Homo sapiens: one gene and its partners. The protein of the gene in region 3 purifies or fractionates together with the protein of the main gene of each other region. This does not show direct contact. Each region holds a gene or a part of one and is shown on either strand. Other genes may lie near its edges. The genes, in order: SERPINB3, COX6B1, AIFM1, FAM91A1, MAP3K4, SGPL1 and CPOX.

Evidence for each region.
Region 1: the proteins of AIFM1 (region 3) and SERPINB3 purify together in Homo sapiens (affinity purification with mass spectrometry; one large-scale study listed by BioGRID and IntAct). This does not show direct contact.
Region 2: the proteins of AIFM1 (region 3) and COX6B1 purify together in Homo sapiens (affinity purification with mass spectrometry; 2 studies listed by BioGRID and IntAct, with this or other methods). This does not show direct contact.
Region 4: the proteins of AIFM1 (region 3) and FAM91A1 purify together in Homo sapiens (co-immunoprecipitation; 2 studies listed by BioGRID and IntAct, with this or other methods). This does not show direct contact.
Region 5: the proteins of AIFM1 (region 3) and MAP3K4 purify together in Homo sapiens (affinity purification with western blotting; one study listed by BioGRID). This does not show direct contact.
Region 6: the proteins of AIFM1 (region 3) and SGPL1 purify together in Homo sapiens (affinity purification with mass spectrometry; 2 studies listed by BioGRID and IntAct, with this or other methods). This does not show direct contact.
Region 7: the proteins of AIFM1 (region 3) and CPOX fractionate together in Homo sapiens (co-fractionation; one large-scale study listed by BioGRID). This does not show direct contact.

The regions. Positions count from the first base shown.
Region 1 is NC_000018.10:63,654,130-63,659,036, forward strand, and holds the end of SERPINB3 (serpin B3), read right to left. Parts: intron 4,502-4,907; coding exon 4,384-4,501; intron 3,284-4,383; coding exon 3,141-3,283; intron 2,858-3,140; coding exon 2,702-2,857; intron 1,933-2,701; coding exon 1,528-1,932; 3' UTR 1,068-1,527; downstream 1-1,067. UniProt on the Homo sapiens protein: May act as a papain-like cysteine protease inhibitor to modulate the host immune response against tumor cells. Also functions as an inhibitor of UV-induced apoptosis via suppression of the activity of c-Jun NH(2)-terminal kinase (JNK1).
Region 2 is NC_000019.10:35,651,323-35,655,532, reverse strand, and holds part of COX6B1 (cytochrome c oxidase subunit 6B1), read right to left. Parts: coding exon 4,184-4,210; intron 963-4,183; coding exon 862-962; intron 1-861. UniProt on the Homo sapiens protein: Component of the cytochrome c oxidase, the last enzyme in the mitochondrial electron transport chain which drives oxidative phosphorylation.
Region 3 is NC_000023.11:130,155,673-130,159,882, forward strand, and holds part of AIFM1 (apoptosis-inducing factor 1, mitochondrial isoform AIF precursor), read right to left. Parts: intron 932-4,210; coding exon 789-931; intron 1-788. UniProt on the Homo sapiens protein: Functions both as NADH oxidoreductase and as regulator of apoptosis.
Region 4 is NC_000008.11:123,805,917-123,810,126, reverse strand, and holds part of FAM91A1 (protein FAM91A1), read right to left. Parts: intron 4,048-4,210; coding exon 3,898-4,047; intron 1,856-3,897; coding exon 1,751-1,855; intron 1,235-1,750; coding exon 1,111-1,234; intron 1-1,110. UniProt on the Homo sapiens protein: As component of the WDR11 complex acts together with TBC1D23 to facilitate the golgin-mediated capture of vesicles generated using AP-1.
Region 5 is NC_000006.12:161,088,896-161,093,105, forward strand, and holds part of MAP3K4 (mitogen-activated protein kinase kinase kinase 4), read left to right. Parts: intron 1-426; coding exon 427-576; intron 577-2,483; coding exon 2,484-2,645; intron 2,646-3,114; coding exon 3,115-3,248; intron 3,249-4,082; coding exon 4,083-4,161; intron 4,162-4,210. UniProt on the Homo sapiens protein: Component of a protein kinase signal transduction cascade. Activates the CSBP2, P38 and JNK MAPK pathways, but not the ERK pathway. Specifically phosphorylates and activates MAP2K4 and MAP2K6.
Region 6 is NC_000010.11:70,853,435-70,857,644, reverse strand, and holds part of SGPL1 (sphingosine-1-phosphate lyase 1), read right to left. Parts: intron 2,938-4,210; coding exon 2,790-2,937; intron 1,858-2,789; coding exon of another isoform or gene 1,825-1,857; intron 32-1,824; coding exon 1-31. UniProt on the Homo sapiens protein: Cleaves phosphorylated sphingoid bases (PSBs), such as sphingosine-1-phosphate, into fatty aldehydes and phosphoethanolamine. Elevates stress-induced ceramide production and apoptosis.
Region 7 is NC_000003.12:98,581,279-98,584,321, forward strand, and holds part of CPOX (oxygen-dependent coproporphyrinogen-III oxidase, mitochondrial precursor), read right to left. Parts: intron 234-3,043; coding exon 129-233; intron 1-128. UniProt on the Homo sapiens protein: Catalyzes the aerobic oxidative decarboxylation of propionate groups of rings A and B of coproporphyrinogen-III to yield the vinyl groups in protoporphyrinogen-IX and participates to the sixth step in the heme biosynthetic pathway.

The DNA of each region.
Region 1 (4,907 bases), on a different chromosome or scaffold from region 3:
TTCCCCAGCTGTATTCACTGAACAGATTGTTGATGTTATACACTCTCTGGCTAGTCTGTCAATTCCCTCGACAACTTGACCAAGTCTCACAGTTAAGTGGTGAAACATTTGTTTCCTCTGCCTTCATCCTGGACTGCTGAATCTTGCTGAAGAAAACTTCAACCTTGTTCAAATTCTCTAAAACTTATGTTTTATGAAACCAGGTGGGATTCAGTACTGACTGGGAAGAATCTATGGGAGTAAATATGGAACCCTAAGAAAAGCTACTTTCTGGAAAATAAAAATGATCAGTTCATGATCTTTACACATATTGATATACTTCAAGGTCAATTCCAGATTCTTCTTTCTTCTAACTTTATCCTTCCTCCCTAGGATCTTATCTTTGCTTCTAGCTACAATTACCATGTTTATCCCAATAACTCTAAAGTATTTATGTTGAATATCACAAATTTAGAGCTTCAGATCATATTCTGTTTCTGAGATTTAGATCAATATCTTCAAGTACCTGCCAGGCAAATTCATTTGAATATTAAAAGTACCTCAATTCATCAAGTACAAATTTAAACCCATGGTCTTTTTTTTCTCTCAAAAACAACATTTTCTTCCATCCTTCCAGTCAGATAGCTCAGAAACTTAGATGTCTTTTTTTAACTATTACTTCCTAAATAATTCTGCCAGGCTGTTTCTTTCTCTTCATTTCCACCCCCAATACTCTAATGATTTCCTGATTTATATATGGTAACCACACTGTTCTTTCCTCTCATCCATTGATATCAGAGTAACCAGAGATGTATTTTCAAGATGAAGATATGATAATTTTATGCCCCTCTTTGACAAACAACCATCAAAGCCTGTAATGAGTTTCTTATCCCTTTAGCATAAAATAGGAAGTTCCTAATGTGGTTTACAAGGCTCCTCCTGTTCTGGGATATGCCTTCTACTCCAGGCTCATCATGAACTACTCTGTTTTTAATTTTCCTTTGTTTGTGATTAATATATCTCTAAATTGTCTTTCCTGTGTGTAACTGGACACTTTCCCTTTCCAGAGAGAAAATGTAAAGCAAAAATGATTTTATGTCACTATTTTATTGATGATGTGTTTTATAGAATCACAAAATTTAGAAACATAAGAAGGATTTAGGTATCACCTAAATTCAAAGAAATGTGTGTTTCTAGGTTGCTAAATTCAAAGAAAAAGTATGATTTGGTTTGGTTCATTTAAAACAGGTCACAAACAGAATTATATTTCAAATTTAGAAGATACGGTATTAAGTGATTCATCTTATTTTGGACATTTTTCCTCAAGGAGAATTTTTCTGGAAGAAAAAGTACATTTATATGTGGGCTTATTAAGAGAAAGAGAGAAAGGCATGCTATTTTAATCATTAAATTCTTGATGATGACGATCATCATCAAGATGAGAAAGAAAAGAAATATGAGCCAAGAGAATCTGTTGTTGCCAGCAATCAGTTTACCAGAACATCTGCAGGTGAACATTTTCCAAATGGAGTGACAGACTAATTGCATCTACGGGGATGAGAATCTGCCATAGAAGAGGATGCTGTTGGTCTTATTTTGCCTTATGAAGAATAGGAAAGGGTGATTACAATGGAACTCTTCATTAGTTGAAGTAGGTGATGATCCGAATCCTACTACAGCGGTGGCAGCTGCAGCTTCTGCTCCCTCCTCTGTAACCTCCACAAAGGCCTTGTGTAGGACTCCAGATAGCACGAGACCGCGGCTCCCGGTCATGCCTGAGAGGTCTGCATCCCCATTGAAGATATCCACCATTCCCATGGTTCTCAACGTGTCCTTGAGGTCATAGCTCTCTTCCACTTTGAACCGAGGTAAGTGTAAATCGACACGTGTCTCTCTCATATTCTGCAAACTTGTCCATTCCATCAATTTCTCAGCAGTGAGTTTCTCTTCAAGCTATACAAATGGAAAAAAGAAACTGATATGACTAACTGTTGATTTCTAATACACCTTAACAATGAATTGACTATGTGGAGAATCCTTATTTTGGCAACAAATGTGAAATACAGAAGGTTCACTTTATTAGATATTATTATTCTAATAGGCAAAATATGAGTCCTGGATATATAAATACATTGGGTTATATGTGTATGTGTATAAACAGAATCAAGTTTTTATGTATATGTAATGTGTACATATGTATGTATACAACTGTATGATACACATGTAAAAATATGATTACATTATTTTGTACACAATGAACTATATATATCACTATTTCTTGTGCCAACAGCCTACTACATGTGTCAATTTTTAATAGGCTCATCTTATTTTTCTGTATACATTATTTAGTACACATTGCAATTATTAAATTGCAATTCCCCAAATTCCTAAATTTCTATTCCCTTTTTTACTTGGTGTATTCGTAAACTTTCCTCACATTGCTATATATTTCTCCCAGTCAAGTTTAAATTGCTGCATAATAATATCATTAAATTGATATCCAATGCATGTAACTCTAATAAATTAATCATTAACTATGCCTTCAGTTTGTGTCAGGCCCTATGCTTAAATCTTTGTAATATGAAGGTGAGTCATCATTCCTCATTTAGAATTTTTCATTATTTTGAGGCAACTCGGTCACCAGCTTTTACCTTGTTTAAACTTGGTATCTTTGGAAAAATGTCAGGCAGTAGAAGGAAGAGTTGTAGATGCAAGTTCTTACCTTCTGGAGACCATCGATTTCATTTGGCAGCAACACAATCATGCTTAGATCTTTGCCTTTGTATGGTATTTCCAGGACCTTGGCCTGTACATCCTCCAGCGAGGCAAAATGAAAAGATGTGTATTGCCTCATCATCTGTATGGACTTGTATGTATTCTACAATAAATCAATGTGTCCAACAAATACCAAGTGAGACACAAGGCAAAAAGATAATATTATTGAGATATCAACACATCCTTCTTTTAAGAAATAATCCAAGAATGTAATGAGTTAGAGACAATAGCTTCTTCAGGAATTCCTAACTAAATAAAGTTATAAGACTAAAACAACAAAAAAACAGACATGAACAATTTTATTTTTTACTTGTCATGGTACATTCCATCAGAAATGTTTAAATTTATTAACATATTACATTATATAAATAAAATATAGACAATACCTTGTTTGGCCAAAATTTTTCCTCTTTAGTATCTTCTTTATTAAATTTCTTCTCCCACTGCCCTTTGAAATAGATTGCGTTCACAAGAACCAATGTGGTATTGCTGCCAATATTACCTTCAGGAATTAGGTTTTTAATTTTTTCTGCAAGGGAAAGAATAAAAGAGTCTTTTACACAAGCTACAAATGGCTTGTCTGGAAGATGCTTTGCAAATGTTCGTGACTGATCGTTAATTATTGACCCAAATCCCTACTTGAGACTCACTGACTTTGATCTTTGAATTGTTAGACTCACTGACCAGTGGTTCACCAGATGCAGCTTTCTTCAAGGCTCCAGTCGTATAAAGTTGCCCTTAATGGAGACATCACTTCTTGTGATAGAGAAGGAGTTCACGTTCTCTGTGTATGAATGAGTCCATTCATCTGATTTGGAATACTGATAAACTGATTTTGTCTACTCTTTCAACATGTGTCTTTCCTTTCTCCCTCCCTCCTCTTCCTACTTTTTTTTTTTTTTTTTTAACTACGGGGTCCCCATTCAGAGGAAGTAGGCCCTGACTGCTTTTTAGGACAAGTGACATGAGCTCTGTAATATGAAACGCATGTCCTGTGCTGTCAGACACTACTTCCGGGGGTATCTTCCTATTCACTCTCATGTTGAGTTGCTGTAAGTTTGGCCTGTAATGAGAGGTGGGAGGTAGGATAGATGTCTATAGAATGGAGAATTTGTTAAGCTCTTGCCCTTGATGGGGAAGAGAGCTGTGATAATCCCTGCAGAACTTGTGGCTAGAGATGTGATCCAGGCAGCTCTAGTTCAGATGGCAAAAGGGTGATTTACCAGAGAGCTGCTTGTTTCCCAATTAGTAAAGGGGAAGGGAGATGCTTTCTAATGTTTCCTTTTAAATATTCATCATAAAATATTGGTTCTGATTTAAAGTAAAGGACATGATCTCAAATTGGACCTGAGTGGAGACAAGGGATCCACAAAGCTATTGTCATCCAGGAACATGAGCAAAGAATCCTCCGGCTATGTTTTCTTCTAATTGGCTTCCTGTGATTTCCTCCTTGGCTCCCCTAGGCTCTCTTCATAATCATTTGGAAAAACTCTTCATCTGGAGTGCCCTCTTCTTCCCTCCCTGCAAAGCCATCTCAATTCCCACCCATGGTCCCCCATGCAGTTTCAGGCATAGGGCTCACTCGCATAGATTTCTCAAAGGTGTTTCTATAATGGGTGGCTCTCCTACCATTCGTTTGACTTTCCACCCAGGAGTTAATCTTCTTTCGACTTTCTTCTGGAGCATTTGCAAAATCAACAGATTCCACACTGGTCTGGTAAAATTTCTTGATGGCATCTAAATATTCCTTTGAGATATGAAGGAAGAAAGTAGGAAGTAAGAGTAATTTATGTAACTATATATTACCAAATTTAGTTATTTATAATTATAGTAAGCTGAATCCAGACCCTGAATAGATGCAGTATCTCCTGTCCATGCATATTTTTATACTGGTGCCATGTAGGCAATGCAAAAGCGGAGTGCGGGCTGGCGCAAGAAAGAGGTCACCGAAGGTCAATATCATCTGGCAAAAGGCAGAAGCAGAAGAGGCTGTGGTTTGCAAACTGCAGAGCAGGCTTCCCTGAAGGAGATTCATTGCTTCTCAGACCTCTTTCCAGTAATTTCAACCATGATGTTTCTGATCTTTGTTTTTATCTTTCATCCTGTGCATTCAGTATTTCCTGGTACTTCCTCAACTATTCTCAGGAACTCAC
Region 2 (4,210 bases), on a different chromosome or scaffold from region 3:
ATTATTTAGAAGTCCACACTGAAGTAGGCAGGGGTGAAATGACGTGTCTGGGACTTGCTTTAGAATACTTCAGCAAAGGAAAGAAGAAAACGAAAAGGGGTAGATGAAGAAACCGTGGATAAATCCTGATAACTATTCACTTTGGGTGATGGATGTATTTGAGGTCAATGAATTATTATCTCTGCTTTGAAAATGTTCATAATAGGGCCGGGCACGGTGGTTCACGCCTGTAATCCCAGCACTCTGGGAGGCCGAGGCAGGTGGACCATGAAGTCAGGAGATTGAGACTATCCTGGCTAACATGGTGAAACCCCGTTTCTATTAAAATACAAAAAACTAGCTGGGCATGGTGGTGCACACCTGTAGTCCCAGCTACTTGGAAGGCTGAGGCAGGGGAATCGCTTGAACCCAGGAGGCGGAGGTTGCAGTGAGGCAAGATCGCGCCACTGCACTCCAGCCTTTCCAGCCTGGCAACACAGCAAGACCCTTGTCTAAAAAAAAAAAAAGAAAAAAAAAAAGAAAAAAAAATGTTCCTAATAAAAAAGGACAGGACTGCACAGAATTGTGAGCTACACAGGGATGGGAGCCCAGTGCTGAGTGTGTATTTGGAGAGTGCATGAGTGAGCTACATCTAGCAAAGCACCCTGGTCGCCTCAGCTGAGAGCCCTGACTGGTTGAGAGGCATCAGCAGAAGGAGACAGGGAGGTAATTCTAGGCGGGAGGAAAGGCACTGAGTCCTGGGACAGTGTGGTGCCCTGTCCTCCCTCTGCCCCTCACAGATGAGCTCCCACCAAGCCACCACACTCCCCTCTGCTAAGACCCCACCCCAGCATCCCAAGGGCCCTGGCAGGAGGCACATACCCAGGATGTGGGGCAGAGGGACTGGTACACACGCTGGTACCATTCGCACACAGAGATATCGCCTCCTTTAGCGGTCATTGCCTTCTGACAGCGGTGGAAGTCTGTGAAGAAAGGGGTTCAAGTCAGCCCAGATCAAGAGTTGGAACACATTTTTTTTTTTTTTTGAGGTAGGGTCTCAATCTGTCACTCAGGCTGGAGTGCAGTGGTGCGATCTCAGCTCACTGCAACCTCTACCTCCTCCTGGGTTCAAGTGATTCTCCTGCCTCAGCCTCTCAAGTAGCTGGGATTACAGGCACCTGCCACCATGCCCAGCTAATTTTTGTATTTTTAGTAGAGACAGGGTTTCGCCATGTTGGCCAGGCTGGTCTTGATCTGCCCACCTCGGCCTCCCAAAGTGCTAGGATTACAGGCGTGAGCCACTGCACCCAGCAAAATTACATTTATAAAGATGTTTACAGCCACACCATTTGTAAGAACTCCAAAATGGAAATCACACAAGTGTACAGGCATAGAATAAATTGTAGAAAACTGGACAGCAATGAAAATGAGCAAGCTATATGCCACAGCATGTATGGATCTGAGAAGGTACTGAATGAAAAAATCCAAACACAAAAGAATACACACAGTATGTATAAAGTTCACAAAGAGGTGAATCTAAACACGGTGGTAGCCGGGCATGGTGGCTCAGGCCTGTAATCCCAGCACTTTGGGAAGCTAAGGCAGGTGGATCACTTGAGGGTAGGAGTTCGAGACCAGCCTGGACAACATGGTGAAGCCCTGTCTCTATTAAAAATACAAAAAAGTGGCTGGACCTAGTGGCTCATGCCTGTAATCCCAGCACTTTGGGAGGCCGAGGCAGGCAGATCACGAGGTCAGGAGATAGAGACCACGGTGAAACCCCATCTCTACTAAAAATACAAAAAATTAGCTGGGCGCGGTGGCGGGCACCTGTAGTCCCAGCTACTCGGGAGGCTGAGGCAGGAGAATGGTGTGAACCCAGGAGGCGGAGCTTGCAGGGAGCCGAGATCACGCCACTGCACTCCAGCCTGGGCGACAGAGCGAGACTCCATCTCAAAAAAAAAAAAAAAATACAAAAAATTGGCCAGGCACGGTGGCTCACGCCTGTAATCTCAGCACTTTGGGAGGCCGAGGCAGGCAGATCATGAGGTCAGGAGATCGAGACCAGCCTGGCCAACATGGTGAAATCCTGTCTCTACTAAAAACACAAAAAATTAGCCGGGCATGGTGGCACGCGCCTGTAGTCCCAGCTACTCAGGAAGCTGAGGCAGGAGAATTGCTTAAACCCGGGAGGCGGAGGTTGCAGTGAGCCAAGGTTGTACCACTGCACTCCAGCCTGGGCAACAGAGCGAGACTCTGTCTCAAATAAATAAATAAAATTGGCCAGGCATGGTGGCTTACACCTGTAATCTCAGCACTTTGGGAGGCTGAGGGGGGTGGATCACGAGGTCAGGAGTTTAAGACCAGCCTGGCCAAGATGGTAAAACCCTGTCTCTACTAAAAATACAAAAAAAAAAAATTAGCCAGGCATGGTGGCAGGCGACTGTAATCCCAGCTACTCGGCAGGCTGAGGCAGAGAAGTGCTTGAAGCTGGGAGGCGGAGGTTGCAGTGAGTCGAGATTGCACCACTGCACTCCAACCTGGGCGACAAAGCGAGACTCCGTCTCAAAAAAAAAAAAAAAAAAAAATTAGCTGGGTGTGGTGGCGAGCGCCTGTATTCCCAGCTACTCAGGAGGCTGAGGCAGGAGAATCACTTGAACCCGGGAGGCAGAGGTTGCAATGAGCTGAGATCGTGCCATTGCACTCCAACTTGGGCAACAAGAAACAGACTCCATCAATAACATAACAACATAACATATATAAAATAAAATAAAATAATAAACATGGTGGTAAAAAACAAAGATGTGAGGCCGGGCACAGTGGCTCACGCCTGTAATTCCAGCACTTTGGGAGGCTGAGGTGGGTGGATCACCTGAGGTCAGGAGTTCAAGATCAGCCTGATCAACATGGTGAAACCTTGTCTTTACTAAAAAAAAAAAAAAATACAAAAAATTAGCTGGGCATGGTGGCGGGTGCCTGTAATCCCAGCTACTAGTGAGGCTGAGACAGGAGAATTGCTTGAACCCAGCAGGCAGAAGAGGTTGCAGTGAGCCGAGATCGTGACATTGCACTCCAGCCTGGGCAACGAAAACAAAAAACTCAGTCTCAAAAACAAAAACCAAAACCAAAAACAAAGATGTGATAACCCCCAGTTAGTGGCGTCACTTCTCTACTGGGGAGAGCGGGGTGCTGTGTTCCAGACAGGACATAAAGAAGGTGGGGAGGCCAGGCGCGGTGGCTCATGCCTGTAATCCCAGCATTTTGGGAGGCCGAGGCGGGTGGATCACCTGAGGTCAGGAGTTTGAGACCAGCCTGACCAACATGGAGAAACCCCGTCTCTACTAAAAATACAAAAAATTAGCTGGGTGTGGTGGCAGGTGCCTGTAATCCCAGCTACTTGGGGGACTGAGGCAGGAGAATTGCTTGAACCTGGGAGGCGGAGGTTGCAGTGAGCCAAGATTGCACCATTGCACTCCAGCCTGGGCAACAAGAGCAAAACTCCATCTCAAAAAAAAAAAAAAGAAGGCAGGGAGATGAGAGTGTGGGCAATGTCTGCTTTTCTCTCCAGGTTATGGTTGCACAAGGGGTTCACTTTAGAATTATTCATTTAGCTGTACATGTTTGTTATGTGCTTTCTGTACATGTTACAGTACGCACACACATACAGCTTAAAAAAAAATCATTGTAGGGGCCAGGCACGGTGGCTCACACCTATAATCCCAACACTTTGAGAAGCTGAGGCAGGAAGAGCGCATGAAGCCAAGAGTTTGAGACCAGCCTGGGCAACAAACTGAGACCTCTTCTCTACAAAAAAATTAGCCAAGTACAGTAGTGTGGGCCTGTGGTCCCAGCTACTCGAGAGGCTGAGGTAGGGGGACCTCTTGAGCCCAGGAGGTTGAGGCTGCAGTGAGCTATGATTGCACCACTGCACTCCAGCCTAGGTGACAAAGTGAGACCCCATCTCTGGAAAAAAACAAAACCAAACCATAATAATAATAAAAAATTTAAATTAAAAAAAAAATCATTGCAGGAACTAAAGTTTGTAACCCTAGCCTGGACCTGAACAGCAGGTGATGAGAGGCATGGGCCTTCCAGAGTAAGGATGTTCAGAATAAAAGGGAGGAGGCTGGGGTGGATGGGTCCCCTAGGAAGAGGCAAGCGGTGAGTGACTCGAGGTATGTGGCCAGGGAAAGGTCCTGCTTACCCAGGTAGTTCTGCCAGCAGTTTCTAG
Region 3 (4,210 bases):
GGCTTAAGTAAAACAAACAGCTTCCTTCAATCAAGGGTGTTACTAGGTGTTATCTAAGTTGGTTCACTCAACCTTACAGGATCCAACTTTAGACTGATCGGCTTAGTCACAGTAAACCCTGCCAAGTTAGGAAAAAAACACCCACAAAATAATTCCTCTGTGACCTGCTAAGCTGATCGGAGTTCATTTAAGGAGATATAATGGTGCTAATACTACATAGCAATTAAACACCATATTTCTCACCTCAAACAAACTCCATTCTAAAATCAGTGATACTAGCCCTGTTTCTGTAATTTAGTCTTTGGGTAAGATTCAGGGATAGCTTTCCTTTTAGGAACACTTAATATTTTTGATTGAAGGCTGTTGTTTTTTTAATGTGAACCTCAAGCTGAGGAAATAAAATGTCTGACAAATAGGTCAAAATCAAATATTGTGCTAAGGAGCTGCAATGGATTTTGACTTTATTCACAGGTTAGTGTGTGACATCCAAGAAAACAGGTACAATTTTGTGGGTTACTCGAATCTAGGAAAACATAGTGGCTTTCAAGTAAAGAAGAAAAAGACAAGTGAAAAGAGCAGAAATCAATCAACATGAGATTAAATTTCAGTCATTCCAGAATTGGCTCCCATAAGATATTAGGCAGCAGGCACTTAAGAGAAGGCTTTTTGAAAATTTTTCCAAAAGGAGAAAGGGGAATTAGTTGCAAAAGTTTTAAAGCAGAATACTATCGAGTCTATTAATGGGAGCTGTTTGGCAGCTTCTTTATACACGCTGCTTTTCTACTTACATAGGCACCAGCTCCTACTGTTGATAAGCCCACAATAAGGACTAACACAGAATTATCGATTTTGCCCCCTGATGCACCAGAGCTAGCCATTTGTCTTGTCATCTGGAGTTCTAGAGGAACATGCCATCGCTGGAACAAGTTGCCTAAGAAACATAATTTATTAAGACACACACATACAAAAATAAAATAGTTAATACATATTTATGATTAAATGTCAATGCACTGTACAAGACTTATTGCCCACAGATATTCACCGTTAAATGATCAAGAAAAATATCATCAAAACTGCATATATAAATACTACAGACAGCTGAATGAACGCTCTTAAGTTGCTGAAGTTTTTAAGAGTAAAATTTAATGCTGTCCAGTGAGAAAATTTTCAGCTTCCAGAAAAGATCATGAAAAACACGAACAGTTCATCAAATACCTCTTCCTTCATGTCTTTCCCATAAATTAAGTAAACACAGAGAGATGACTGAATAGGTAGATATACAAAGTTAACCATGGGCTACCTGGGACATTATAACAACCATTTAAGGAGTAATCTAGATGGTTCCAATCTTGCACAAAATAAAACGCAACACTCTAACCAGGACACAGTTCAATCTTGCATGAAAGGTAATGTGTCCTGGAATACAGAAATGTTAAAGCTCAGAAGAAAATCAGAAAAAAAAATTTTAATGAGTTTCTCTCCCCCAAAGAACTAAAAAATTTTGGACTATGAAATATTTTTTATAATGACAAAATGTGAAGTGTCCAGCAACTCCTTGACTCTTACTCCTCCAAAATAATACAAAGGTTATTTTGACGTAAAACTATGCAGAGCTATGTAATGATGTGATGATCATAACAGCACCTGTACATAGAAATATAAGAGTTCTGTAGATTTCTTTTTCTAGGGAGACGCTGACATTTTCAGATAAAGGAAGGTCTCAGTCTCTGATTATTCTGTGATTACTCCTCGTGTTTGTTGACTATCAACCTAGAGCAGCAAATTTTTTCTGCAAAGAACCAGATGGTAAATATTTTCAGCTTTCTGGGCCATTTGGTGTCTGCTGCAACTACTCAATTCCACTGATGCTGCATAAAAGCAGCCAAAGACAATACATAAATGAATGGATGTGGCCATGTTCCAATAAAACTTTATGGACACTGAAGTTTAAATTTTATATAATTTTCATGTGTCACGAAATTCTTTTTTTTTTCAGCCGTTTAAAAAATGTAGGTCAGGCGTGGTGGCTCACGCCTGTAATCCCAGCACTTTGGGAGGCCTAGGTGGGCAGATCACGAGGTCAAGAGATCGAGACCATCCTGGCCAACATGGTGAAACCCCGTTAAAAATTAGCTGGGCAGGTGTGGTGGGGCATGCTTGTAGTCCCAGCTACTCGGGAGGCTGAGGCAGGAGAATCGCTTGAACCCGGGAGGCGGAGGTTGCAGTGAGCCGAGATCGCACCACTGCACTCCAGCCTGGCAACAGAGTGAGACTCCGTCTCAAAAAAAAAAAAAAAGAAAAGAAAAAAGACCAGGTGCAGTGGCTCACGCCTGTAATCCCAGCACTTTGGAAGGCCGAGGAGGGTGAATCACCTGAGGTTGGGAGTTAGAGACCAGCCTGACCAACATGGAGAAACCCTGTTTCTACTAAAAATACAAAAAATTAGCCGGGCGTGGTGGCTTATGCCTATAATCCCAGCTACTCGGGAGGCTGAGGCAGGAGAATAGCTTGAACCCAGGAGGCGGAGGTTGCAGTGAGCCGAGATTGTGCCATCGCACTCCAGACTGGGCAACGAGAGCGAAACTCCATTTCAAAGAAAAAAAAAGAGAAAAAGAAAAAAGAAAAAAAATGCAAAACCCACTCATGGCTCCTGGGGCATACAAAAGCAGGTGACTGACTGGCTTTGGCCTGTGGCTGTAGTTGGCAGACCCCGATCTAGAGCAGTGGTTTTCAAACTTGAGAGTGTATCCCAATGCCCTGAAGGTTTTATAAAACAAAGCTGGCCAGGCCCCAGGCCCAGAGGTTCTGATTCAATAGATCTGGGATGGGGCTCAAGAATGTGCATTTCTAACAAGTTCCCAGGGGATGCTGCTGTTGCTGCTGCTGCTGTTAGGGTGGGGACCACACATTGAGAACCATCTGTCTAGAGCAGGTATATCCTATCTTTTGGCTTCCCCGAGCCACATGGGAAGAAGAAGAATTGTCCTGGGCCACATATAAAATACACTAACACTAACCATAGCTGATGAGCTAAAAAAAAAAAAAAAAAAAAAAAAAAAATCGCAAAAAAATCTCATAATGTTTTAAGAAAGTTTACAAATTTGTGTTGGGCTGCAGGTTGGACAAGCTTAGTCTAGAGGCTGATACTTATGTCCCTGTCCTGTCTAGGCTTTAAAAGACAAACAGAATGGACACTGGTAGTAGCATCCCATGTATACTTGCAGAGATTAGAGAAGGAATTTCCCCCTTGCTTTCATAACGTTAGGCCACAGACGGGTAAAAACAAGCCCAATGTGGATCTGTGGTCTCTCATCTGAAATCCTGGGGACCATGTATAATTTGGAACTTTGAATTATCTGGTCTTAAGTATATGGGGCATATACCACATAGTGACACCTAGCAAGGTAAAGGGCAGCAATTCATAGTTAAACATATTAATATGACCAATCACGCTAAGTGATATTTTAAAAAGATTATAAAGTAGCCTCTCTCCAGTTCAGGTCAGGTTTTACTGGCAAATGAGTTATGAAAACTTGATAGTCTTAAATTTTGGTCATTCTACAATTTCAATTTCTGAATTACAGATAAGAGACTTTAGATCTACACTCTTAGAAAAGGAAATGTATTTTTCTTTACTGTTCTTCTTACCTGCTTTTAGAACTCTTCATCACCACATGAAATAAAATGGTTGAGATTTGGAAATAATGACAAATCATGAAAATAAAAACGTGAGCGGGGCAGAAACTTATCTCAATCTGGGCAAGCTTTTGATTTTCAGAAGCTTACAAAAATAATGAACCATCAGAAGTAGAAAGTGGTAACTCTCAGAGCTTAGAAAATGAAACTGGTTAGGAAAAGTTCCATGTGATTTAGTTCAATGAATTTAGTTTGTCCTCCACCTCTACCCCTGGTTCATTTACTAAAAATAAATTTTTTTTGTTTTTGTTTTTCTTTTTTTTAATTCTGTTTATTCCTCCAGAAGACCCTAAATACAGACATTATAACAAATTTGTTTTAATATCATACTCATGTTTATTCTCCTTCTGCTTGCTTTTCACAAACTGATAATACTAACAGTGTAGATTTAGGAAAGTTCAGCAGCTTTTGTCTCAATTTGCCAAAAAAAAAAGAAAAAAGCATTTAAAAGTAAATGGACTTTTTTTTTTTGAGACAGGGTCTCACTCTGTCCCCAAGCTGGAGTGCAGTGGCA
Region 4 (4,210 bases), on a different chromosome or scaffold from region 3:
AATTTTTGCTTGTTTTAATAATAGGGAGTAGTCATGCATTAAAAGTCCATTTTGAAATAAAATACATCGTGTAACTAAAATCAAAGTTATTGTTTTAAAAAAATTCAACTACTATAAACATAAATGTTAAATGAAAGAAAACTTTTCAAATGAAGATTTAGGCACTCTGAGGAATGACAACTATGACACAACCTTTAAACAACCAAAGTAATTGCAAAAGACAACCTGATAACAGATTAAACACACACCAACCTACCTAAATATTTTTCAAATATGTAAGTCAGTAAAAATTATAGTGGTAATCTTTAAAGTTCTATAGTATTTCTATTTTTTACTCATGTATATTACTTTGTTTTTAGAGAATAGATGTTGAAATTGTCAACTGAGTACTCTTCATTTTCTGATAAAAGCTACATTACACCATTTAAATGAATTATTGTCCAACTTCATTTTCTAAAATAAGAAGATCTTGACTTGTGGATTTCACCTCTCCAAGCCACCTATCATGACAATTAGATTCAATTATACTCTTTCCTGCTAACCCAGTTTGTCTCAGAACCTTTACAACATTGCCTCTTAGCAGCTACTCACAATGGATCAGAGCTGGTATATAAGATAAAACCTACATGTCATCTTTAAGGAGTAATACATATCCATTTTAGAAAATGTAGAAAGTGAAGAAAATTTTGCAAAGTCATCATAATTCCACCACAAAAACCAATCACTATTAACAGAATATAACATGAGTGTGTGTATGTTAGGAGTGAGAGAAATGCAGAGAAATTTTCTGTAGACATACATTTTTTAAAATCTAGGTTCATACTCCATATCAGCATGCCCATTTCACCACACCCTCACCTCACCTAGATTACTAAATAAATATAATCAAAACATGTGCCCAAAATGTTTGCCTGTGACTAATTTCTGATCTAGTGAAATTTAATTTTGAAAAATACAGCAAAACCCTTAAACTAGCGATCTCTATTCAATCAACAAATATATACAGAACAATTACTGTGCTCATGTGTGGAATAAAAGTAAGATATGGTAACTATTTGCTGACAGCTTAAAAATTGATATGAAAATATGACAGCGAATATAAACCCTCACCTCTCTTTTCTGCAAAGGCCATGTGCAGCAATTTTCCTACAAACTTTCCGGTTTAATTCGGAACTGAACAGTGGAATTCCAAAGCACAGCTCGAGAGGAACCCAATCTGCTTCTGTTGTGGCACCTAAGAAAGGATACATAAACTTATTTTTTTATCATATATATCTACTTATGTATATATTATATATAACTGACAAGGGTTTCTTAACCTGAAGTTCATAGATTCCTCCTGCCCCACTGATATCCACCAGTGGGCTTGGCAGGGGAGGAAGAAATTGAAGGGGGTCAGTTAATCTCTAAACAGGATAGGCATTTTTAGGGTATAAACATGTGTCTGAGAAGGTACATAGCTTTCATCCAATGTTCAAAGTAGTCATTTGCCCAAAAAAGAGTATTGCAAGATATCTGTAAGATGAGAGAATGAATCAAAACATTTACCACAGGAATAAGATTATTTTCAAGTCATAATTTTATAATACTTGAATTATTTTTCTAAGTATGTAAAAAGGCTTCCTAGAAAACTCTTATTTAAAAGTCGTATGAATAATAAGAATAGACAAATGGCATGCAAATGCCTTAACATAAAAGTTAAACCTCAGAAATTAGTCTAATAAAATTGGAAAAAGTTTTAGCACCATACCAGAGGTTTGCTTTGTTGCTGAATCTATAGTTGCTTCCTCAATGACCATTTCAAATGACTCTGTACTCCCATTTACATCTGAGCCAGAAGCCAAATCAGGTTCTCCTTATAATTAAAGGGCATACACAATATTAGGATTCTAGCAGTTAGCAGAAGCTGCCAATAAATCAGTCCTAACATGGAAAAGACTTCAGACAATAGTAATGATGACAGAAAGAAAATGCATAATCCTTGGCTTAAATAAGTGGTTTTAAACAGGGGAGCAATTTTGATCCCCAAGGGACACGAATGAAGACAGGGATGCTATTCGTATCTATGAATGCTAAACATCTGACCATACACAGGACAATCCTCCACAGAAAAGAATTAGCCAGCTCAAACTGCACATAGTGCTGAGATTGAGAAACCCTGACCTAAAGAAACAAAATTCAAAAAGGAGGACCCAAGTTACTGAAGCCAATTGCACCCCTGTGGAAATATATAGTCTGATTATGTTATTACTCTTCAAAGTTCTTTTCTGACTCATTATCTTTCAGCACAGAAGATCCTCCAAGATCCCTTAGACCTTATCTACTTCTCTACTCTCATCTTCTACTACTGTCCAACAAATCCTTTCTTTTGGCCACAATGAACTACTGTTTTCTAATTCCCCTCTGCCTGAAAGGCTGCCACCCTCCAAAAACACATTATCTTTTGTCTACCTAACTCTTCAATTTTCAAAACTCAAACTTCACCTTCTCTAAGAGGCCTTCTCTGTGCTGTGTTAGCGCTTTATGCAGACCCCATCATAGTCAATAACACCACACTGTATACTGACTCACTCGTCTCCTCTCTAGGGTTTTCATCCTTGGAACAACATTGTCTTTTTTGTTTCTTTTTTTTTTTTTTTTTTTTTTGTAGAGACAGGGTCTTGCTCTATTGCCCGGACTGGTCTCAAACTGCTAGCCTCAAGCAATACTCCTGCTTTAGCCTCCCAGAGGACTGGAATTACAGGCATGAGCCTGTACCTGGCCATGCCTGGCCTGGTCTTATTAAATTGCTCCAGCACCTAAGCAGGTATTCCATAAATGTTTGTGGAATGAATGACATAAAAAAGGAGAGCTGTAGTAGATACGCTTTGAAATGACTGCTTAAGTCATAGCCCTCTTCTCTAGAAAATGCTCCTGCAATATTTGGCAGTCAACTATTTGGCCAAAGACAAATGAGATAGGAGTAAGTACCTATCTCAATGGGAGCCAACCCAATCTACTGGATGGCAAGTAATCAATCACATTTCCTCAGAATTTCAAACTAAGAGGCTCATGGAATACTGTCAATCAATGGGAGATAATGAAAGATCTCCCAGAGTCAATGGATAAGAACTGGCACCACGGCAACCCAAACCACATATATGCCAATATTATGCCAGAGCAGAAACAACTAGTAAGCATGAGAAGGTGATTTGAAAATGGATTTTCAAATTAAAAAAAAAAAAAGTAAGTGATATCTAAGGAAAATTAGCTATTGTCAATATGTAGGACAGACTGGAGATAGAAAGGAGAGGCCAGAAAGGCTAAGCAGGGAATGGTTGCAACAGCACATGTTTAAGGTTTAAAGTTCAAGACCCAGACAAGAAGAGCAGTCACAGAGAATTTAAAATGAAGAGAAAGGGGAAGAAATGGACATGAGAGACTTATCTAAAGCCTAATTCACAGAACTTGGAAACTAACTGAACATAGTGGAAAAAGGAAAGAATGAGACAAAGGTAAGATTTTAGACCTAGATAATTAAGACAATGGTACCTTTTGACAGAAAAAGTTGAAAGGGAAAAACTATTAAGTCAATTTTGGAAACACTTGTATAAAGAGACTTGAGTTTTGAAACCATCACCCTATAAAGCTAACCTAATAAAGCCTAATAAACACAGATATGACAGTAGAGCACCCAAAAGTCCCAAACCATTCTGTACCCCAATCCTATTTTCTTCATTTGAACAACTGACATTTGTCCAAATGATGTTCCAAAATATTTCCTCGTGCTTCAGTGAAAGAATATTGAGTATTCAATAATTCAGCATCCCCACAAAGGTCTGCTGCTTTTCATATATTAACACTGTGTCAAACTCAAAACCAATTATCTTAATCCAAAGAATCCAACTATTGGCTAACCTCTCTCATCAGAAGCATCACTGAGTTTTCTATCTGCAAGTTGGCTGGAAGCATTCAACATGGTGACATATCCACAGAGATGCTGTAAGTCCACTCTGTTCCTTAGTATCTGCAATGCTTTATGAACACCCATATTGACACGAGTGAACTCTACAAACAGAACGGACATCACATTAATGAACAGTTTCTAATAACACAACGCCAACAGCTTAAACATACTTTATTAAACAACTCTTAGAACTACTTTTATACTTTAATACATCATAATTGATTCCAAAAAAGAAATATATAAAGTTGTCATTCTTACTGAAAC
Region 5 (4,210 bases), on a different chromosome or scaffold from region 3:
CAAAAGTAATAAAGTCTTGATTTCTTAATGTTTTATATAAGGCCCCTCATCTTATTTCTGTCTTATTCCTACATTTTCCTTCTTCATATGCTGCTCCAATACACACACACATGCACACATACACACACACACTCACACACACTCTGCACTGGCAGTACTGAACTACTTGAAGTTCTAGGATATCTCAAAGATGTCATGCCTGCAGTCCCAAAGGGTTCTTCTCCGTGGTGCTGAATATCCCAGCTGTCAATGCCCACTGAAGCGTGTTGCTGTGTAGGAGAAGCTTTGCTTAAAAATGACTTTCTGATTAGATGGTTGTTGGCCTGGTATCCCTGAGATTGGCATTGTTTTTGGACTGGTGTTGAACTAGAATAACAACTAGTAACTGGGTTGGTTTTTATGTCCTGTGCTTGATTTTCCTCCCAGGTGGATAATCTTTTACTAGTTGTCATGCAGTCTGCGCATCTCACAATTCAGAGAAAAGCTTTCCAGCAGTCCATTGAGGGACTTATGACTCTGTGCCAGGAGCAGACATCCAGTCAGCCGGTCATCGCCAAAGCTTTGCAGCAGCTGAAGGTATTACACTGTCCTCTACATTAGCTGAGATTTTTCCTTTTTGATGAAAGTCAGTGTGTGGTAATGTGTGTAAGGTAATATCATCCAAGGAACTTGAGCTCCTGAATTGCCTGCCCACTCACCTCTCTTCCCAATACATATTTTCTTATGTCTAAACTACATATTCTGAGATTCTTCCTGAAGCTGTAGAACTTTATAATTGGAAAGGATAGAGAATTGAACTTTATGTGACTTATTCATAATGGCTACATGACTGGTTAGTGGCAAAGTTGAAAATTTAATAATTTAGGTCTCTTCATTCCCAGTGTAAATTTCATTCTCCTTTCACAATCCCCAGTATTTACTAGAGGTACTCCATATCAGCAGTGTGTAATAGAAGATTTATTTATTGTTTTGTTTAATAAATAATTCAACCAAATTAAATATAATAGAAAAAAGTTGCAGAGAAGTACAAAGGCCTTTCAAAGTTTATGACAAGCCCCAGCCTGGCTGTCTTTTTCCATTATTTCCTGTTTTTGACACTTTCTATTTTGTATCCCATGTATCAGTCTTGATCTCATCCACACTTTTCCAGGCCATCAGTTATGTCTTCTCACTCACATTAAGGCTTAACTTCTTGAAGAAGAAACATTCTCTGAAGTTACAAGTCATTTCGTAAACACTTGTTTTTCTTCTGTTGGTCTGATTTGTCTGATTTATCTATAAACATTTATTAACTAAATATTTAGGTTATCTCTCTCTATGGATTGCTGGAAGAATATTTTGTAACCATAGTAAGGGGATTGCCTGATGGAGACCTTGTGTGCACTCGTGTGTAAGGGTGGGTAGAGAGAGAGACCGATTTGGAGCTATTGTGATGTTGCTGACAGAGGTGACAAAAGCTCGAGCCAGGGCAGGGCTTCTCAGCCTCTTGGATGTGGACGTTTGGGCCCGTAACTCTTGGTCGTGGAGGGCCGTCCTGCGCATTGTAGGATGTTTAGAGCTAGGGCAGGGCTTCTCAGCCTCTTGGATGTGGACGTTTGGGCCCGTAACTCTTGGTCGTGGAGGGCTGTCCTGCGCATTGTAGGATGTTTAGAGCCAGGGCAGGGCTTCTCAGCCTCTTGGATGTGGACGTTTGGGCCCGTAACTCTTGGTCATGGAGGGCCGTCCTGCGCATTGTAGGATGTTTAGAGCCAGGGCAGGGCTTCTCAGCCTCTTGGATGTGGACGTTTGGGCCCGTAATTCTTGGTCGTGGAGGGCCGCCCTGCGCATTGTAGGATGTTTAGAGCCAGGGCAGGGCTTCTCAGCCTCTTGGATGTGGACGTTTGGGCCCGTAACTCTTGGTCGTGGAGGGCCGTCCTGCGCATTGTAGGATGTTTAGCAGCATCCCTGGCCTCTACTCACCATATCCCAGTACTTCCACTTTTTCCTCCAAATTTTGACCATCAAAAACTTCTCTGGACAACGTCTCCAGACGCTGAGGGGAGGGGGAGAAATCTGCCCCAGAAGAGAACCCCTGGACTAGGGAGTAGCAGGGAAATGAGGACAGCACGATCGGAGGAGGTCATCTAGAAGTACATGGACTTTTTCACTCTGTGGAATTGCACCCGTACTTATGGTTGAGCAACCGTCCAGGAGGAGAAAACAACAGGTGGTTGATGTATAAAAATATTGAAGATAAAAGCATCTATTCCAAGAGCAGATTATAACTAGACTGTATCATTTTAAATGCATTTTTTTCTCTTCTATTTAAGAATGCCAAATAAAATGACATAATTTCTTCTATATTTGGTAATTCCTTTACCAAGTGGCTGAATTGTTTGTAGTGGTTAATGTCTGTGTGATGATGAACGAAATCTTCCTTTAAAATGTGGTAAGTATTGTATGATTTGCTTCATTTTGCATTAATCATGGTTTGGACTCTTCAGAATGATGCATTGGAGCTATGCAACAGGATAAGCAATGCCATTGACCGCGTGGACCACATGTTCACATCAGAATTTGATGCTGAGGTTGATGAATCTGAATCTGTCACCTTGCAACAGTACTACCGAGAAGCAATGATTCAGGGGTACAATTTTGGATTTGAGGTAGGTTCAAAATAAGAGGAAACACGGTACAATTTAGTAATTGCTTGATAACTTACAGAAAGTTTTTGGAACCTTTTACAGTAAATCTGATATTGTAATCATAGCTTAATCAAGAATATCATCTTATATCACTGCTGTATATCAGAGATGTTAGTTTACTTTTAAACTGTTAGGTAATTGTCCAACTTTTATTTTGTGCTAACAGCCATCTACTTACATTTTAAAACTTTAAAGAGATGTTTTATGTCATAAAAGCACATTCTTAATTTAAACTCAGGAGTAAAACATTTATGAAACTGCATTTTGAAACACTGTACTTTCCATAATTCTTCATACTATTCAAAATATAGAAATTTTAATTGGATTTCACTTTTTGTTTTTAGAAAACATTTTAGACATGGCATTATAGTGTGTGATATTATTTAATGATCATTTCCTTAATGTTGATATACATGAAATCTTCTTACAGTATCATAAAGAAGTTGTTCGTTTGATGTCTGGGGAGTTTAGACAGAAGATAGGAGACAAATATATAAGCTTTGCCCGGAAGTGGATGAATTATGTCCTGACTAAATGTGAGAGTGGTAGAGGTACAAGACCCAGGTAATGACCAAGTAGGATGTTTCTGAAATGTGTCATGTGGGCTTGGTGGTATTTGTTCATATATGTTCTGTGGGATTCTTTTTGAGCAGACGACACAGAAGGGAACACTCTAAACTCTTCGGTGATCAGGTTTTTTTTAATGGAAAAATATGTAGAGAAAACTGCGTAACTCTTGGGAAAAAATTTTTTTTTAAATTTGTTCCAAATTTGAGTTACCTTTAAGGGAACTCATGTTCTCCTTTGACAAGTCTTCCTGATGACTAATGTATTTTCCTCCCTCATGAAATTTATTCATTAAGAAACCATTTTGGAATTTGCAGGGGTGAAATGGGTGAATCGTCTGTGAGGCTCAATACTAGCTCCACTAAAGTAAACATAGTTATTAAAGTGTCATGACTGTGTGAGAAATAGCTGAGTGTTCTGTAATTTGTAATGGAGGGATAGCATGGGGCACTTTCTTAAAGTCATTAAGCAATTTCTCCAAGTTAGAGAAAACACATTTGCTGCATCTGAGATTCAAAGTAGGAACTTTGTGTTACAAAACTCATAAATACTTGTTGAATTACAAATAAATAATTGTTGAATTACAGATGGCACCTATCATGTCTAAAATCCTCTTCCATGCTTCCCATTGGTTTCAAAACAAAATTAAATTTTAAAAAATTATTCTCCTTTCCAAAAGGTCACGCTGTAAACTTACTGAACCCAAGCAAAAAAAAGTGTCTTGTCCTAAATAGTAATTATAATTATGTTACTTTTCAGTATTGTACAGTCTAAAACTGCTACAGCGTTTTCTTGGTTGTTATGTGATTACTGAACTTTTTCGTGTACCAGGTGGGCGACTCAAGGATTTGATTTTCTACAAGCAATTGAACCTGCCTTTATTTCAGCTTTACCAGAAGATGACTTCTTGGTATGGATTATTCTAAAGTTTTTTTCATTATAAAATAAGCCAGTCACTC
Region 6 (4,210 bases), on a different chromosome or scaffold from region 3:
CCAGAGGCTCTCCCCTCTTGCCAGAAGGCGTCTGCAGAGAAAGGTAAGGTCACTGGTCAGTAAGCAAGAATCTCTGGGAAGACAGGTTCTGATAAAGAAGAAACAGGAAGAAACTCCTCTGGATACAAAAGAAAAAAATGTTGAGTGGAAACCCAACAGCATTCTTATAGCAAATCAAGAAAAAAGTTCAATAGAGTTAGCACAATAAAATAAAGATGAAAAATCATTATTATCAGCAATGTGAAAAAGATATTAATAGCATTTAGCTACAATAAAGGCAATCTGATAATAATGTTGTCCTCATCCTCAACTGCCTTCTAACAGCAGGAACATTTGCCTTTGTCTATACTTATTTTTTGTTCTCTATATGGCTTTGGAGTGGCCTTTTTCTGCAATAGCTTCCTTCTTCTCTCCTTTCCTATCCAGTCCTAGGAATTTTGAGAACTATTATGAGCAGAGTTGGCAGAAGAAAGCAAAATGAAAAGTGTGAAATTTCAGCACACTATCATCAGAGATGAAACCAGCAAACAAACCACAATGAGGTATAAACCATGAGCACCCCGGTCTCAGACGCCGGCTCCCTTAAGCCAAGCCTGGAAACCCACATAAAACTAGTTACCTGCTTCCAGCAGCACACGCTGTAGCATATTCAAGATCAGGAACACAGTCAACATTGGGATAAACCTCCTTTATCCCAGTGTGGAAAGAAAAGTAAAGTTCCTGAGTAGAATATAAGATCTGACTTTCCACTTTCCTCTCTCCCCGAGACATTCTTCATTTTACCCACAAATTTGTTGATATGGGTGTCTCAGGTCCTTGTGCTACAATGCAGCTGTGCCCTATTGAAAGTGGGTAGTGAGAAAGCTATTACGGAAACACACCAACTAAAAACTGCATGGAGCCAAGGGCTCTCCAAAGCAAAGATCTTCAGCTCTTGAGAACAGAAAACTAAGTGGTAAATATACAGACAAACTCATTCTTACAGCAATCTGCCAAGCTCTGGCTTGCTGCCCGTTTGACTTTCACTCTTTCCTTAGAGGACACTGCTCTGTACTATACACAGCTTCAGACCAGTGGTCACCAGCCTTTCAAAAATAAGATAACTGGTTTCATTTCCTGTTCTTTTACTGATGCTAGAGAATACAGCAATGGACAGTGACTTAAACATTAAAGAGAAGGCAATATGATGGCGGCAACCAGGTCTCATAATCATGGAAATCTTTAACACCAGGTTTTAGAGTGCTAACCACTGCTTTATTCATCTACATCCTAGACTATATCAAATTTTGTACTATTCAATGTCAAGACCTCAACACATGTCACTTAGAAATTGTAAGGGTATTTGTCAAGGCCGAGCACAGTGGCTCACACCTGTAATCCTAGCACTTTGGGAGGCCAAGGTGGGCAGATCACCTGAGTTCAGGAGTTCGAGACCAACCTGGGCAACATGGTGAAATCTTATCTCTACTAAAAACACAAAAAATTAGCTGGGTATGGTGCCGCACGCCTGTAATCTCAGCTACTTGGGAGGCTGAGGCACGAGAATTGCTTAAGCCTGGAAGGTGGAAGTTGCAGTGAGCTGAGATCACACCACTGCATTCCAGCCTGGGCAACACAGTGAGACTCTGTCTCAAAAAATAAAAAATAAGGGTATTTGTCAAAATGCAACATGGCTCCTGGTTGGCTCCTAGAATAGAAAAAAGAACATTAGTTTAAAACAAAACATAGCAAAACAAAAAAAAACCCTGATGAACTAGAAATAGAATTTGTAGTGTAGTTAATAGCACTGTACCAATGTTAATTTTTTAGTTTTGATAAACGTACCATGGTTATAGAGGATGTTAACATCAGGAGAAGCTGGGTATAGGGAAATCTCTATCATCTTTGCTACTTTTCTGTAAATATATCAAACTAAAAAGCTTCTTTTTAAAAAGTACTTGTAATATGATCTTAATCAGTAACAAACATAAATCTGTTTGAGTTAATAATAGCAATAATGTTTAACATTTACTGAATCCTTACTATATGCCAGGCACTATAAAACATTTATACATGTATGATCTCATTTAATCCCCATAATCATCTTTTCAGGTAAGTACTGTACTACTATTACTATCCCCATTGTAGAGATACAGGAACTGTGACATACAGAAGTAACTCGCCAAAGGCATACTTTAAGTGGCAAACCAAGGTATGAATCCAGGCTGGTTCCAGGGTTACGCTCTTAAGCACCAAGCTATTTGGTCTATTTATCCATCCCATATGTGCTCATGCATACATGTGTATACACACAGACAAACACTATTAGCATTCTCAGAAACAGACAGATATACATATATAGATAGATGTAAACTATATAGACAGCTCTACCTATAGCTACATGCATAAAGATAGACACCATCTGTTTATCTTTGATAGTGGAATTATAGTGACTTATTTTCTTTTGTGCCTTTATGCAGATTTCACATTTTTACATGGATCTGTATTTCATTTGTATTACATATCTTATATTCTCTCTTCTTAAACACAAATATATTTGTTTTATTCATGCTTACAAAAGGAAATAAAAGCCAAGTTCCACTGTCTCTGAGATTTGCTTGCTTTATGGATGAAGGATGAATCTAAACATAATTTTAAAAATAGGAAATTCAACCTGTGAAACAGAGAGTAGGCCCTCCTAAACATGTATTAACCAATGATGAGTTATTCTTAACCTATGTGAACATTAAACAATGACAAAACCTGTCTCTTTAAGGAAGTAGAGAGCATGTATATGCCAAGCATCATACCCATAGAGCTGTACTCCTTAAGTTTCTCCAAAACAGCAGATGAGCTCAGACCCTGGGAGGGTAAAGCTTTCACATACTCTTTGTCCACTTTCAGGAATGACATGTTCTTGCTAATATCATCCTTGGTCTTGTTCAACTTGTCTTGAATCTCCAAAGGTAAGAAAGACAAAGTTATCCAGATGCAAGAGTACAGTAGAGACAGCAGAATTATTATGACAGTCAAGCAACTGCTCAATGCTAGGCACCGCACAAGTAACTAAACTAACATTTTTCCTAAAGATATATGGTGATATTCTGACTGATCAGCTACTTTCTGGCATGTACAATAGCCTCTTAAAAATTTGAAAAGCGAAGCTTCTCTCTAAAGGTCAAGATGCACTCAGCCGGTCGCGGTGGCTTACACCTATTATCACAGCTCTTCAGGAAGCCGAGGTGGGCAGATCATTACAGGTCAGGAGTTCGAGACCAGCCTGGCCAACATGGTGAAACCCCATCTCTACTAAAAATACAAAAATTAGCCAGGCATGGTAGCAGGCATTTGTAATCCCAGCTACTTGGGAGGCTGAGGCATGAGAATCACTTGAACCCAGGAGGTGGAGGTTGCAGTGAGCCAAGATCACACCACTGTACTCCATTCAGCCTGGGCAACAGAGCAAGACTCTGTCTCAAAAAAAAAAAAAAAAAAGTTGCACCCAATTTCCCCATAACCCTTTTCTCTGCCACATTGACATCACTGCTGCTTCACTTGGTTGGCATTGCTAAAGTCAGCACATCCTTGAGGGCAGTATTTGGACTTTGATCCTGCCTTGGCAGCAGCTACAGTGTGTGTGTAAAAGAATCAAAGGTATAACTAGGAACAGTGGCCAGAAAACTGGCCATGCTGCAGTAAAAGTGATTCTGGTCCTTGTGCAAGTGATGAGCTCCTTCAACAGACATACACGCAGCACACTAGGAATTTGGAGGTCCCATTCAACACTAGCACAAGGCATTCTAAGAACTGCCAGGAAGACTCTAATGTATCTCCTTAAGCTGCTGTCGACAGCTTGCACTGTCTGACCCCAAAATATTAAAAGGAACTAAGGTCCTTTCTGCTAGGTAGTTTATCAACTATGGTTCCCTTCTTTTCCATCCTCAAAGCCACAGCTTCTGAGCTGTTTTCTTTTATTCACTTACATATTCACATTCATATTCACTGCATATTCACAAATATGCAGGCCAGGGACACATAGTGAACAAAACAAACTTAGGCAATGGAGCACACAGGAAAAAAAACCTCCTGTCCTCATGAAGTTTATTTTCAGCAGGAGAGACAGAAAATAGTAAGACAGGTAACAAAAAGTGCTGAGGGAAAAAAAATAGCAGAGTAAGGAGGCAGAAGGGCAGGGGCTGCTGCTTATAGCAAAAGGCTCTTGGGTAGTAGG
Region 7 (3,043 bases), on a different chromosome or scaffold from region 3:
TATAAAATCAGCAAAGTCAAAACTAACAAAGACCTAGGCACAACATCTGCAGTGTTAACTTTCATATTTTGTGGGTGTTTGGGAATTGGGAGTGTAGGGATAACTACTAAAATGAGTTATCTCCTTACCGGGCAGTTAGAGGTAAAGACATCAAGATACTTTCAATTCTGGATCCTGGAGTGAAGAGGCCAAACTTTGTGCCCCGATCATACAGCAGATTAAATTCTACATACCTGCCATAAATACATCAAATAACATTAAGGGCCAGCTCAATAAAATCTTAAGACTAACCCATAACAAATACTTAAAAAGGGGTGGGTTCTTCCCCCCAGTTCCCATCAGCTGGAACTGGCACAGAGGACACCAGCCTACAGCCCATTGAGAGCTCTCCATCTGGACAGGCAGAAATAAAAGGGTATTCTACCCACCAAACAATAGAATATAGATTCTGCCCCAACATAGAGCAGTCACAATACAAGGTTATGTTTTCCCATAAGTAAACAGAATTGACACAAAGCTGAGAAGTTTAAAGCAGAACAACAATTAAGAAAAAGAAATGCATCCCTTCTCAGGATAACCCAGCTCTTTCTGGCCTTCCTCATAATCTGGAATGTTTTGGACTCAAAGATTTCATTTCACTGCCTGTAACCCACAACTACTACTACTAAGATGGTGTAAAACTTCTGACCTGAAAGGCCAACTACAGCTAACAATAATCTATTAATAATGGACTATGATATTCTATATATTCCTCTTTCCTAAAGTAGTTAATTGCATTAATAAGCAGTCATATAATTCAGTCTCTCTGCAGATTAATAGCAATCATAATAAAAGGTAGTGTTGAGTTGCAGTGTTTTCATTTTTTTTTTAAATACCCTTAGCATCAACTAAAACTTGGTTCAATATGTTAACTCCCCTAGTCAGATCTGGACTCCTTCCAGTTTAAAACCCTGCATCTGCCTTTAACATAGGATGTAAACGGGTCTCCCTCTCCCATTTCAAAAGGATAATTTCTACTACTCAAAAGAATTTAGACTGATTCATAATCTGAAAAGTTCAATAAACAGTGCCCCTTTCAGATCATTTCTTATCTTATTCAGAAATTACTCCCTTGGTCTAAACTTCACTCACATATTCTTATTTACCTATTGGTTACTGTCTTGATGCCCATCTATAGCAAAATATCCTCTAGATTCCCACAATAATTTTTTTTTCTTTTCTTTTTTTTTTTTGAGATGGAATCTTACTCTGTTGCCCAGGCTGGAGTGCAGTGGCGCAATCTCAGCTCACTGCAAGCTCCGCCTCCGGGGTTCACCCATTTTCCTGCCTCAGTCTCCCGAGTAGCTGGGACTATAGGCACCCGCCACCATGACTGGCTAATTTTTTGTATTTTTAGTAGAGACGAGGTCTCATAGTGTTAGCCAGGATGGTCTTGATCTCCTGACCTCGTGATCTGCCCGCCTCGGCCTCCCAAAGTGCTAGGATTACAGGCGTGAGCCACCACGCCCGGCCCACAATACTTTAATTTTTTAAAAGCACCTTTTGTATGTGGAACTTGTCAAAAGCCCTGCAAAAGTGTAAAGAATTTTATCTATGCTCCCTTTCTAACTCTCACCATTTATCATTGACTTTTACGTACAAAAAACTATTTAATACCTTCTTATGTCTGTTTCAAAAAATAATTTAAGTGAATCTTCTGAATCCTTTTCTAAGACCATGGAAAATAATTTCATCTTTTGGCTACCTTTTTCACCTGATATTATCTTTCTGAAACATCTCTCTAGGGGATGGGTATGGTTCTCTAGTTTATATTGATGTATTTGAAGACCTATCGCAGAGACCCTTGTAAAGATTCCTTAATGAATTTTCTGTTGGATCCTTTCCTTTATTGCGTGAAGGATGCCCCTTTCTCTACATTGGCCTCTCTACCTCCCACCAAGTTGCACTTAGATCTGATTTTTCTTTTTTAATAAAAAATTTCCATCTCCTATTCCTGGTATAGATCTGATATTCTATATATTCTTCTTTCTTAAAGTAGTTAATTGCATTAATAAGCAGTCATATAATTCAGTCTCTCTGCAGATTAACAGCAATCATAATAAAAGTAGTGTTGAGTTGCAGCATTTTCATATTTGTTTTTAAATAATATTATTTAATCTTTTCTGATCCTTTCCATACATCTGTCCTCTCTGGGGTGCCTATAAGTTAGGGACTTTAACCAATCCCTTCAATTTAACTAATGCCTAAATTTTATCCTGTTTCCCTTTCCCAGAATACAACGAACAAGTAAGTTAAAAGTCTTTAATTTCTGTTTTCCTATGAAAAGGATAACTGTAAGACTGATGTTCAAGGTCTGGGGGAGGATAGCAGTAACTGTGGGCAAGAAACTGGATGAGATTGCCAAATAAGAGACTGTAAAGTCAAAAGGGAATGAGACTGACTGCTGAAAGGGAGACCGGTGTTTGGACAGGGTGAAGACGAGGCAAAGTGGGTAACAGTAAGTGAAAAGGATACAGAAAACTGGTCATGACTGCAGTATTAGAAACCAAAGACAGTGTTGATAGCCCCAGAGAAGAACTGGAGTTATCTTAGGCCCCAGAGTTTATTGCCATCTTAAGGACCAGAGATAAGGGAGGCAGAAAGAAGCTGTCTTTGAAGAACAGTCACACACCATACCATAGAAAATTAATCTACTACCCCACAGTTCTGCCTATCTCATGACACCAGACATGCAATGATACACAACAACGACTTTCAGAATGATCTGCCATCAAACGATGTATAAAAAACAAAACAAAACCGCAAAACAAACCATTACTCCTGTCTATGAAGTTTTAAAGGATTCACCTAATTAGTATTGACAAAATCTGCCAAGTTTTGCCTTCGAAATCTTGTGCAAAACTAGAATACTTTACTTTGCACAGAGTTCTAAATTGTCCTCTTGGGTATGTCTTCCCCACTAAACTATGAGGTTCTTTTTGGCAGGTCCATGTTACAGCCACCGGGTAGCCAAGATAGTGCCTCATCACAGGGGCCCCAAAAT